2 separate regions of the Homo sapiens genome follow, and region 2 is linked to region 1. The links come from fine-mapping of genetic effects on gene expression. A gene starts in region 1. The other region holds a variant in brackets. All regions are shown on one strand. Distances are between the middles of the regions.

Region 1 (5,379 bases):
TCCTCCGACGCTAAGCACTCGGCCGCTGGCTCCTCCAGGGGGCGCCGGAACCGCGCGCCCGGGCTACTCCGGGTTCCTTGCTCCGGGAGTCTGACATTTTCAGGGGAGATCACGGATAGGAAAGGGAAAAGGCAAAGAAAAGGAGTAGGGGCAGACAGAAAGAAGGATCACTATTCGTATCATATTCTAGGCAGTCACTGCCAAGCGCCAGCCTCTTTCCCCGCATTTCATGCCTCCGCAAACGCGCGCACACCACACACACACACACACAGGTGTATACACACTCCGATGGGGCATCCCGAGTTGTTGTGTTTTCCCCAGTTGAAGAGGCGCTGGCGGCCTCGGCAGCGGTCCCCGCCCGCGGCGCCAGGCCAAGCGGGTCTCACAGGGGTGGGCGCCAAACGCGCGCGCCTGACCGTCTTCCCAGAGCGCGCGGAGGACAAGGGGACCCGCCGGGGCTGTGCGCCAGCTACAGCAGGGGCCGCGCGGAGCCGACGCCTGGGGGCGCCGGCAGCGTCCTCGGGCCTCCCTTCGAAGGCGCGGAGAGTTCCGACTCCAGCCAGGTTCCAGACTGCCAGGGCTCGGGTGGGGCAGCAGGGAGCAGGGCAGGGAGGGGGCGGTTCCCAGCAATACCGCCCTCCTCCTCTACCCTCCTCTTCCTCCACCTCGGCTTTAGGGAGCCCTCAGTGTGGCGATCTCAGCCTCAGTTCTCCTCACCCGGCATGGCCGCGCATCACCTGGAGGGCTTGGCAAGGTCAACCTGCGGGCACAGTCGCAGCGCTTCCGATCTGCTAGGTCGGGTATGGGGCGCGAGTCGGTTTCCCCAGGAGGCCTAGGCGGCCTGTCTGGTCCCGCACTCTGGCGCCGGCTCCTCCCTCGCTGGCCAGGAGTGGCGGGCAGTTGCGGAGCCGGACGCTGGGGGAGTCAGGCTGCCGCGCGGCAAGTTATCAGCTGGCGGAGGTTCCTGCGGAAGCTGGCGTCCAGGAAGGCGTAGAGGAAGGGGTTGAGGCAGCTGTTGGCGTAGCTCAGGCTGGTGATGAAGTAGGAGATAGCGATGACCAGCGGCGTCTGCGGGAGGTCGGTGGTGAGCGCCACCACGGTGCTCAGGTGGTAGGGCGTCCAGCAGAGGAGGCACACCGCCAGGATTGCCACCACCAGGAAGGTCACCCGCTTCTTGGCGCGCTCCAGGGCCTTGGCGTGGCTGTCCAGCCGCATGGCATGCAGCCGGCACAGCAGGGTGGTATAGAGGACACAGATGGTGGACACGGGGATGGCGAAGCCCAGCACGAGCGTGTAGAGGCGGCTCGCGCGCCACCAGAAGGCCTCGGGCTGCGGAAAGACTAGCACGCACTGGCGCCGGCCCTGCTCGTCGTCTAGCCGGGCGAAGACTGCGAAGGGCAGCACGACGAGTGTGACGATCCCCCACACGGCCAGGCTCACCGCGCGCGCGGCGCTGTAGGTGCGGCCGGCCACCCGGCGCGACTCCGCAGTGGCCAACACCACCAGGTAGCGGTCGGCGCTCATGACGGTGAGGAAGTAGAGGCTGGAGAAGGTGTTGTACTGGTCGATAGCCACGATGAGCTTGCACATGAGCTCCCCGAAGGGCCACTGCCGCAGCAGGAAGTCGGCGATGTTGATGGGCAGCACCAGCGTGAAGAGCTCGTCGGCGATGGCCAGGTTGAGGATGAACAGGTTGGTGACGGTCTTCATGCGGGGCGCCCGCAGCAACACGTACAGCACGGCGGAGTTGCCCGCCAGACCCACGGCGCAGATCACCGCGTAGACAACTGGTACAGCCACCGCCAGCGGCGCCGGCAGCGGCGCCAGAGTCGACGCGTTGGAGCAGCTCAGCGCCGGGTCCGGGCCCGATGCGTTGGCGGGCCAGGGCTCCGAGAACGAGGCGTTGTCCATCTCAACGAGGGCAGAGGAGCCGGCGACCTGGCGTCCCCCAAGGACGCCCTACGGAGCTCAGCGGTCCTGAAGCCCGGTTCTGCACGGACCTGCTCGCGGACGCTCGTTTCAGCTCTCCAAGCCGTTCTCTGGTTTTTCCGGAGGAGGGGACCGTTCCCAGCCACCCCACGGCCCAATGTCGCCGCGGACTCACGGGGCTGGAAAGAGGAATTTAAAGCATAGGTTAGTTCGTCGACGTGTAACTTTAGAAATAGGCGCGGTCCCGAGGAGGGGTGGGGGTGGCGCCGCGGCGCCCCAAACCTCCTCCACGTGAGCGCTCTCTGCTACCTGTTGAAATCTCACTTCTACCAGTTGAATACATCAAACGAAATGCTAGAGAGAGAAGAATCCTCCATAGGAAAAATGCAAACCCTTCTCCCCTCTTTCAGGAAACTTCCGTAGACCCAGGTTACCCCACAGAATCCCGCAGTGGCAAGCTTCGGTCTCCCCAGGGTCTGTGCGCCCTCAGTAACAGCAAGCTCAACAGCAGTCTTTACCTTACCTGGCTGGCTGGGGAAGGGGTCTGCCTTTCCTGGAGCTGTCAGGAGAAAAGCCCGCCGGCTGCGGGGAGGCTGAGACGCCTGCCGGCTGGGTGTCCGCCTCCCCCTGTCTGCCTCCCCCGAGTTCGCCAGAGTCCGCAGCTCGCGTCCCCGCCGGTCCCTCCCGCGCGCCTGGAAGTGCAGGGATGGCGCAGCCGCGACTGCGTTCCACTGCCCTGACCGCCGCGCCCACCCCCACACCCCAAGTAAAATGGTCTTAGAACAGAGAACAGAAATTCCCCCAAATTTAAGGGATTCCTTTCTTCCATCCCAGTCGTGCAACCTCACTCCATCTGAAATAATAGAAAGCTCTCCTGTTAAGAATCGAATTTAAGGAAAACAAAGTTAGGGTGTAAGTGATCTATTTTTAAAGGAGAACAATGTAGTGGAGGCGCCTGTTCCATTTTTTATACACCGTAACACAAATAGGCTAATGTAATGTGAAATCTGAAAGGAGGAAAAAGTGAGTGCAATTTTATAATGCAAATCACCTGTTTTCTGCTACTCTGGTCTTCAAGGGGATAGAAGATTGTTAGTATGTTTTCTAAAACTACTTCTACTTCTACTTTTGTGTAAGTAAAGACTTGATTAGTAAAGACAAACGGCTTCCGCAAAGCCTTTTAGGGAACCATGACAATGCGTATTTCATAAAACGTTACAAGTTGTTCAACACACTCTCTACTTATCCACACACTTGCCCGATTCTCCTGCTAATGAGAGCTATCCTGCGATCGCAGCGGAGAGTAGCCAAGGAAGGACTAGCAGGGGCAGTCTTGAACTCCCCTGTCGCTATTTCCCTGGACTTTGGATTCTTTCTCTAGGAAGGGAAAATCATCTTAGGCTCCTCACCAGTTCCCCTAAGAATCGAATGAAATAAACTAAATATTGGTTATTTCCAATTTCTGCTTTTTTTTTTTCTCCACATTTCCTTTAGGAGAGAGAGCAAATTAAAACACGAGATTATATCCTCTAGTAAACTACCCTTCCACAAAAGCAGGCGAAGCCCAAATAAAGTGTATTTTTGGTCCTCTAGGATGCATCTTAGAGAAGGGGGCCTGAGATCCAGAGAGACCTAAAGTCGGCAGTAGAAGACTGTGGGGCCAGAAATACAGTAGCCCCCCCATACCTATGGGGGATAGGTTCCAAGAGCCCCAGTGGATGCCTGAAACCATGGATAGTACCCATTGCGGTCAATGGGAACATGTTTCTGTTCTTCCATCCAAAAATGATGCAACAGCAAAACTAGCATGCATTTCTTTTTTCTTCTTCACATTTTCGTGGATAGATTTGTTTTTAGTAGATCTTGGCAACCTCTGCATATGATTTTTTTTCTTTCCTTATTAAGTCCAGAATTTTTACCTTTTAACTTAAAGGAGGCATTTGCAGCTTCTCTTTGGCATATCTGAATTGCCAGCATCACTTCTCTTGCACTTTGGAGCCAGAGAGAAATAAGGGCAAAAAGTCAGTAAAATCAAGGCAACTTGAAGACACCACACTGGTCATTGCCACAGTCATCTAATAACCCAGATTGTGAAGTGACTAACAGGTGGATATTGTAGACAGCAGGGAAACGCTGGGCAAAGGGAGGACTCACTTTCTGTGGGAAGGAGTAAGATGGCTGGATCTCATCACGCCAATCAGAAGTCAACACAATTGAAAACCTAGGAACTGTTTATTCCTGGAATTTTCTGTTTAATATTTTTAGACCACAGTTGACCACGAGTAACTGAAACTAGGGACTCCAAAACCACTGACAGGGGGATCCACTGTCCAAAAGCTCCCTGGAATTTACCTACTCAATTATCTTTTTACCAGGATCTATACAAATCGGCTCCCCTGCAGTTTCACACTTTCTGTGAAACAAAATAACAGATGATTCTTAAGCTATGTCCGTAAGAAACACTATATGATAAAACACCATATAATGTTAAAGAAAAAATATATATAATAGAAAATCTCCAAACGGTTGAAGATGATCAACTATATACACATACGTGTATACATACACATATATACACACACGTGTATATACACACACATATATACACACGCATATATACACGCACATATACACACGTGTATATACAGACACATATGCACGTGTATATACACACACATACACAGTGTATATACACACATATATGCACACTTGTGTGTATATACACACACATATGCACACGTGTATATACACATACACACGTGTGTATATACACACATATATACACACATGTGTGTATGTGTGTATATATGCACATGTATATAGTTTATACACGTGTGTATACACGTGTGAATGTTTGTATACACATATGCACATGTGTATATACGTGTATATACACGTATGTATACACGTGTGTCCATATATGTTTATGTGTATATATACACATGTATGTATATAGTTGATCATCTTCAACCGTTTGGAGATTTTCTAGCCTTTTTATTGTTGACTTCCAGTTGAATTACACTGTAAACTGAGAACATACTCAATATGACTTCAATTCATAGATATTTTTTGAAACTTACTCCCCAGTATATAGTTATTTTCTAATTATTTCATGTGTACTTGAAAAATTGTTTTGCACTTGTTGGGTGCAAAACTCTACATATGTCAACTAGTCAAACTTACTATGTTGTTCAAATTTCTCTATTGATTTTTTTTCTTTTTTTTTGAGACTGGGTCTTGCTTTGTCACCCAGGCTGAAGTACAGTGGTGCAATTGCAGCTCACTGCAGCCTCAACCTCCTGGGCACAAGTAATCATCCCCTCTCAGCACCCCTAGTAGCTGGGATTACAGGTGCGCATCACCACACCAGGCTAATTTTTTGTATTTTTCGTAGAGGCAGGATCTCACCATGTTGCCCAGGCTGGTCTTGAGTTCCTGAGCTCAAGCGAA
Region 2 (5,379 bases), 240 kb after region 1:
TTATTATACAGTTGTTTTAAGTCAGGATCCAGGATCTGAACAAATTCACACATGGCATTTGTTTATTTTGTCTCGTCCATCTTTTTTAGTTTATAAAAAGTCTTCTTTTTTTTTTTTTTTTTTAGTAACCATTTGTTGAAGAAACAGAGTCATTGTTCTGTGGAATGCTTATTCTGAATTTAACTGATTCATCATAATGTTTGTCTTTTTCTTTATACTCCATATTTCCTAGAAACTGGAAACCGTAGGTACATATAGTTGCTTGATTAAATTCAGGTTTACTTTTTCAGAGGTGGTCTGGGGTGGCAAGAAAACTTTATACTTGGGCTGTGTCCAGTTGAATCGCTATTAGCTGGAGGTTTTCCATATAAATGGACTGAAATACGTATCTTTTTTGTTTTGTTTTGTTTTTTGTTTTGAGACGGTCTCTCTCCCTTGCCCAGGCTGGAGTACAGTGGTGTGATCTTGGCTCACTGCATCCTCCATCCCCCAGGCTGAAACAATCCTCCCACCTCAGCCCCGCAAGTAGCTGGGAGTACAGGTGTGCACCATCATGCCTGGCTAATTTTTGTATATTTTGTAGAGACAGGGTTTTGCCATGTTACCCAGGCTGGTCTTGAACTCCTGAGCTCAAGTGATCAGCCTGCCTAGGCCTCCCAAAGTGCTAGAATTACAGGCATGAGCCACTGTGCCCAGCTATCCAAAATACATTTCATATAGGAAGGACAGTGCTTAATTTCTTTGCTTTTTAAGTTTTTATCATGGGTTCTATCTTAGCTCACTGAGGTTTTTTGTTTTTGTTTTTTTGAGTATCATTATGCAGCATGGATTTTTATGGGTTTTTGCCATTCAGTTACTTGTACTCATTCTTTTGATGGTCAGACTGTCCCATCATAGCCAGTAGAAGCCTTTTAAAGTTGTTTTCCTTGCCTTTTTGACCTAATCTCTTTAGTCTTTGTTAGCTGTCTTGCTTTATGGCATATTAAGATGTTCCAGGCTTATGTGATTGGTACATTTTCTACTTTAGACATTTAGCATTAGCCACTTCTCCAAAGGTTCTTTCTAGAAACCAAAGTAGGCCGGGCGTGGTGGCTCACACCTGTAATCCCAGCACTTTGGGAGGCCGAGGCGGGTGGATCATGAGGTCAGGAGTTCGAGACCATCCTGGCCAACATGGAGAAACTCTGTCTCTCTGAAAATACAAAAATTAGCCGGGCGTGGTGGTGGGTGCCTGTAATCCCAGCTACTTGGGAGGCTGAGGCAGGAGAATCGCTTGAACCCAGGAGACAGAGGTTGCAGTGAGCCGAGATTGTGCCATTGCACTCCAGTCTGGGCGACAAGAGCAAGACTCCGTCTGAAAAACAAAAAAACCATAGTATGAGTGTGTAATGAGGTTAGCCAACTCTACAGTTAGAAGGAACAGTCCCACAAAACTGCCCTCATTTCAGGTACTAGTGGCAAGTTTGGCGGTGCCCAGAACCCACCCTCACTTCAAACCAGCTGACTACAAACTCACAGGTTCCCCATATCCACCCTCTCTTTGGAGAATTCACTGGAACAGGTCAGGGAACGAAGGAAAGCACTATACTCACAATTACACTTTTATTATAAGAGAAGGATACAAAAATTAAAATCAGGCAATGGCAGAGAGCAGAATCTGGAAGGGGTCCAAACTCAGAGCTTCTGGCCATCATTGCTGGTGGAGTCATAGACAGTGTTACCTTCTCTTGGCCACAACGCGTGACAGTATACACAGAGTATTGCTCACTAGGGAAGCTCACCTGAGTCTTTGGTGTCCAGAGTTTTTATTATGGCTTGATCCTGTACTGTCCACATGACTCACCTTTAGTCTCTAGCCCTTTCTGGAGGTCAGACCAATGTCTTTAGTCAGTAGTTCCTCTGGAGGTCAGAACTTAACTGATACATGAGTCACGTTGCTACACTGACGTGACTGAAGCCCTAAGGCAAACAAACACAGTTCTATCTGTCAGGATATTACAGGGGCCTAGAGATCACCTCCCAGTAGCGAAGGGCAAAGGCCAGACCTTTCTTTGGTTAATGTTAATTTTTCACTGCCTGTTGTGCTGTGGGTACTTCTGGCTCTAGGTCTGTCAATGCCTTCTTTTCAATGGAGCTATGGAATAAATGTTTTATGGAAAGAGAAAAATTCTTGTTTATACTAGTATTTCTAAAGTACTTTTTACTTCTTTATACATTTTATTTCTTTTCTCTTGGGTTGAAAACCTTGGAATCTTAGGTCGAAAATCTTGCTTGCTTAGTAGGAGAAAAATACTGTCTTCTTTTTAGATTTGTAATTCTTTGATTACTGAAGAGGCCTCAAATATTTTCCACATTTGTTAACCACTTGATAACCTACTCATGCCCTTTGCCTATTTATCTATTGTGAGTCTTTGTGATTTTCTTATTAATTTATAGGAACTCCTACTAAAAAGCTAATAGTAATCCTTAGTCACTTGTTATTGTCATTTTCACCAGTAATCACATCTTTGGATATTTGAATTAAATGATGGGTGGCAGGTATGGAAAATATCTTCTTCTTTTTGGTTTTCTACCCTTTCCTCTCCCACTAAACTAGAATACCAGTCATTGTGTGATCAGTCCTGGGTCTATCATCTGTTAGAAAGAAAACTGGGAAATTGGGCTTGTCTCTGGGCAGGACTTCTTTGTATTGTTGCTGTCACTTCCATATGATGGAAGTGCTGCTTACCAGGAGGTTCAGTCCTTCACTAGTAGATGCCTGGTATTAACTAAAGTATGTGCAGCTCTCACTGAAGTGGCTGTAGTTGCTTAAGCTTTGGAGGAAGAGGCACACACTTTCTCTCTAAAGGACCAGATAGTTAAGTATTTTAGGCTTTACTCTCCAAGAGGCAAAATTGAGGCTATGATGTATAGATGTTTAATGTAATAAGAGAGAAAACTCCTGCTGCGTCCCGTTTGTCCGGGATGAGCCATCCAGGATGGTGGGCATGTTTTGTGCCCAGTTGGCATCAGTTCGAGACTGTCTCCGGATCCACAGGGGACTACCCGGGGGGGATGAGCCTGGGAGTAGAGGCCAACACCATGTTATTTTCTGCTTTGAGAGCAGATCC[T/G]GAATCACCCTCCTCTTCTTCCTGAAAGCCTGGTGGGAGACCACGTGACCTGTTGAGTCTTCCACTCTAGAGCCAAGATTATACTCCTCACTGTCCTGCAGTTGCCAGCAGTAGGGTGGAGTTCCCTATTTGAAGGTGGCCCCAGTGTGTGTCCTGGGAGTGAAGTGTGTGAGGATGCAAAGGGGTAGCTGTCTGTGTTAAACACTCAGCTCTGTTCTTGGCTACGATAGGTAGGTTCTCCTCTATATGTTTCTTTAGCTGTGAAGTGTTCAGTATGCACATTTCTAGAGAATTCCACACTGCCAGGATGACCAGGTATGGAAAAATTTCTCTCTGCTACATGCCAAGATCACCTTTTCTTTTCTTAAATTTTAAGTTAAAGGGTACATGTGCGGGATATATGGGTTTGTTACATAGGTAAACATGTGCCATGGTGGTTTGCTGCACAGATTATCCCATCACCTAAGTATTAAGCCCAGCATCCATTAGCTATTCTTCCTGATGCTGTCCCTCCTCCCACCCTTCACCCTCTGACAGGCCCCAGTGAGTGTTGTTTCCCCATCCTACCCCCGTGTGTCTATATGTTCTCATCAGTAACAGGATTGCTGGGTTAAATGGTATTTCTGCCTCAAGGTCTTTGAGGAATCGCCACACTGTCTTCCACAATGGTTGAACTAATTTACACTCCCACCAACAGTGTAAAAGCATTCCTTTTTCTCCACAACCTTGCCAGCATCTGTCTTTTTCTTTGACTTTTTAATAATATCCATTCTGACTGGTGTAAGATGATATATCATTATGGTTTTGCTTTACATTTCTCTAATGATCTTTGATGTTGAGCTTTTTTTTCATGTTTGTTGGCTACATGTATGTTTTCTTTTTCTTGTAAATTTGTTTAAGTTCCTTGAAGATGCTGGATATTAGACCTTTGTCAGATGGATAGATTGCAAAAATTTTCTTCCATCCCGTAGGTTGTCTGTTCACTCTGATGATAGTTTGTTTTGCTGTGCAGAAGCTCTTTAGTTTAATTAGATTCCATTTGTCAATTTTTGCTTTTGTTGCAATTGCTTTTGGCTTTTTTGTCATGAAACCTTTGCTGTGCCTATGTCCTGAATGGTATTGCCTAGGTATTCTTCTAGGGTTTCATAGTTTTGGGTTTTACATTTAAGTCTTTAATCCATCTTGAGTTGATTTTTGTATGTGGTGTAAGGAAGGGATTCCGTTTCAGTTTTCTGCATATGGCTAGCCAAGACTCCAAGCACCGTTTATTAAATAGGGAATCCTTTCCCCATTGCTTGTTTCTGTCAGGTTTGTGGAAGATCAGGTGGTTGTAGGTGAAGATCACCTTTTCATTTATGGACACAAGGAAATCTTGTTCTCTCAGGATCTGGGTCCATGCCATTTCTTGGATGATGACTTTGCTTTCTGTTGAAAACCTTACCTTGTCACATTTAAAGTGTTCTGTTATTCCACTCTTCTTACTTCATATTGAAAGAGGTTTTTTTTGTATTGTATTTAGTAAAGGAAATTTTTTAAATGGTCACATAAGGGAGAAAATCTGCAAGGGGAAAAAAGTGTTGCTATTTCTAAAGGAATAGTAAAGTCCCAAGTCATAGAATATGCTTACTACATGTAGTCTTATTTAAGGGATTTTAATGTAGTATGTTCATGTTCTTTTTTCCCCCGTGATCCAGCTATGGATTTTAAGTTTTTACAACTTTCTTTCTATGTGACTTTAGGAAATAACTTCTTTGAGCCATAGTTTTGTCATATGAATGATGCGGATAATTCTTAACCTCTCTCACTATAGGATTTGTAAGAATATCATATACTTCATACAGTTCTTACTCATGTTTCCAGTCAATGGAAGCTATTGCTATGCCAACAGTATCATTATCTCTAAAGAATAAAAGCAAAGTGGAAGTATGTATTTTGGAACTTCATGTTTGTTTTTACTTTAAAAAAAAGATTTTTTGTAGCTTTTTTCCCCCTGAAAGTAGGTATCATGGAGTTTTATATAAATATAAAATTTTCATGTTGCCCACTATGATATTAAAATTCATGAGAGCAGACAGTTTTATTATTTTGTATTTTATTCCCAAAGTTAAGAAAATGCCTGGTACCTAACTAGATTCTCAGGTGATATTTTTATTGAATGAATGAATTTATTGACCTGTGTTCACACCCCTGGCTAAGTTTACTTTTGTTTTGGTTTACTAAGTTTGTTCCTTTAGACAAGTTTAATCTGAATTGTAATTTCTCATCTGCA

What was found.
Region 2: its variant is fine-mapped to the expression of NPBWR1 in unexposed skin (GTEx, PIP 0.97).

What each region holds. Positions count from the first base shown.
Region 1 is chr8:52,936,440-52,941,818 of GRCh38, reverse strand. It overlaps NPBWR1 (neuropeptides B and W receptor 1), which reads right to left and starts at 2,637. Exons shown (of 2, transcript NM_005285.5): 1 at 2,453-2,637; 2 at 1-2,108. The coding sequence starts at 1,911. The coding sequence ends at 925. RefSeq lists enhancers at 1,199-1,830, 1,831-2,462.
Region 2 is chr8:52,692,040-52,697,418 of GRCh38, reverse strand. All of the region lies in intron 1 of RB1CC1 (RB1 inducible coiled-coil 1), which reads left to right. Among named protein-coding and RNA genes, the nearest start is that of RB1CC1, 20 kb to the left of the region's middle. The variant T/G (reference allele first, on the strand shown) is at 3,111.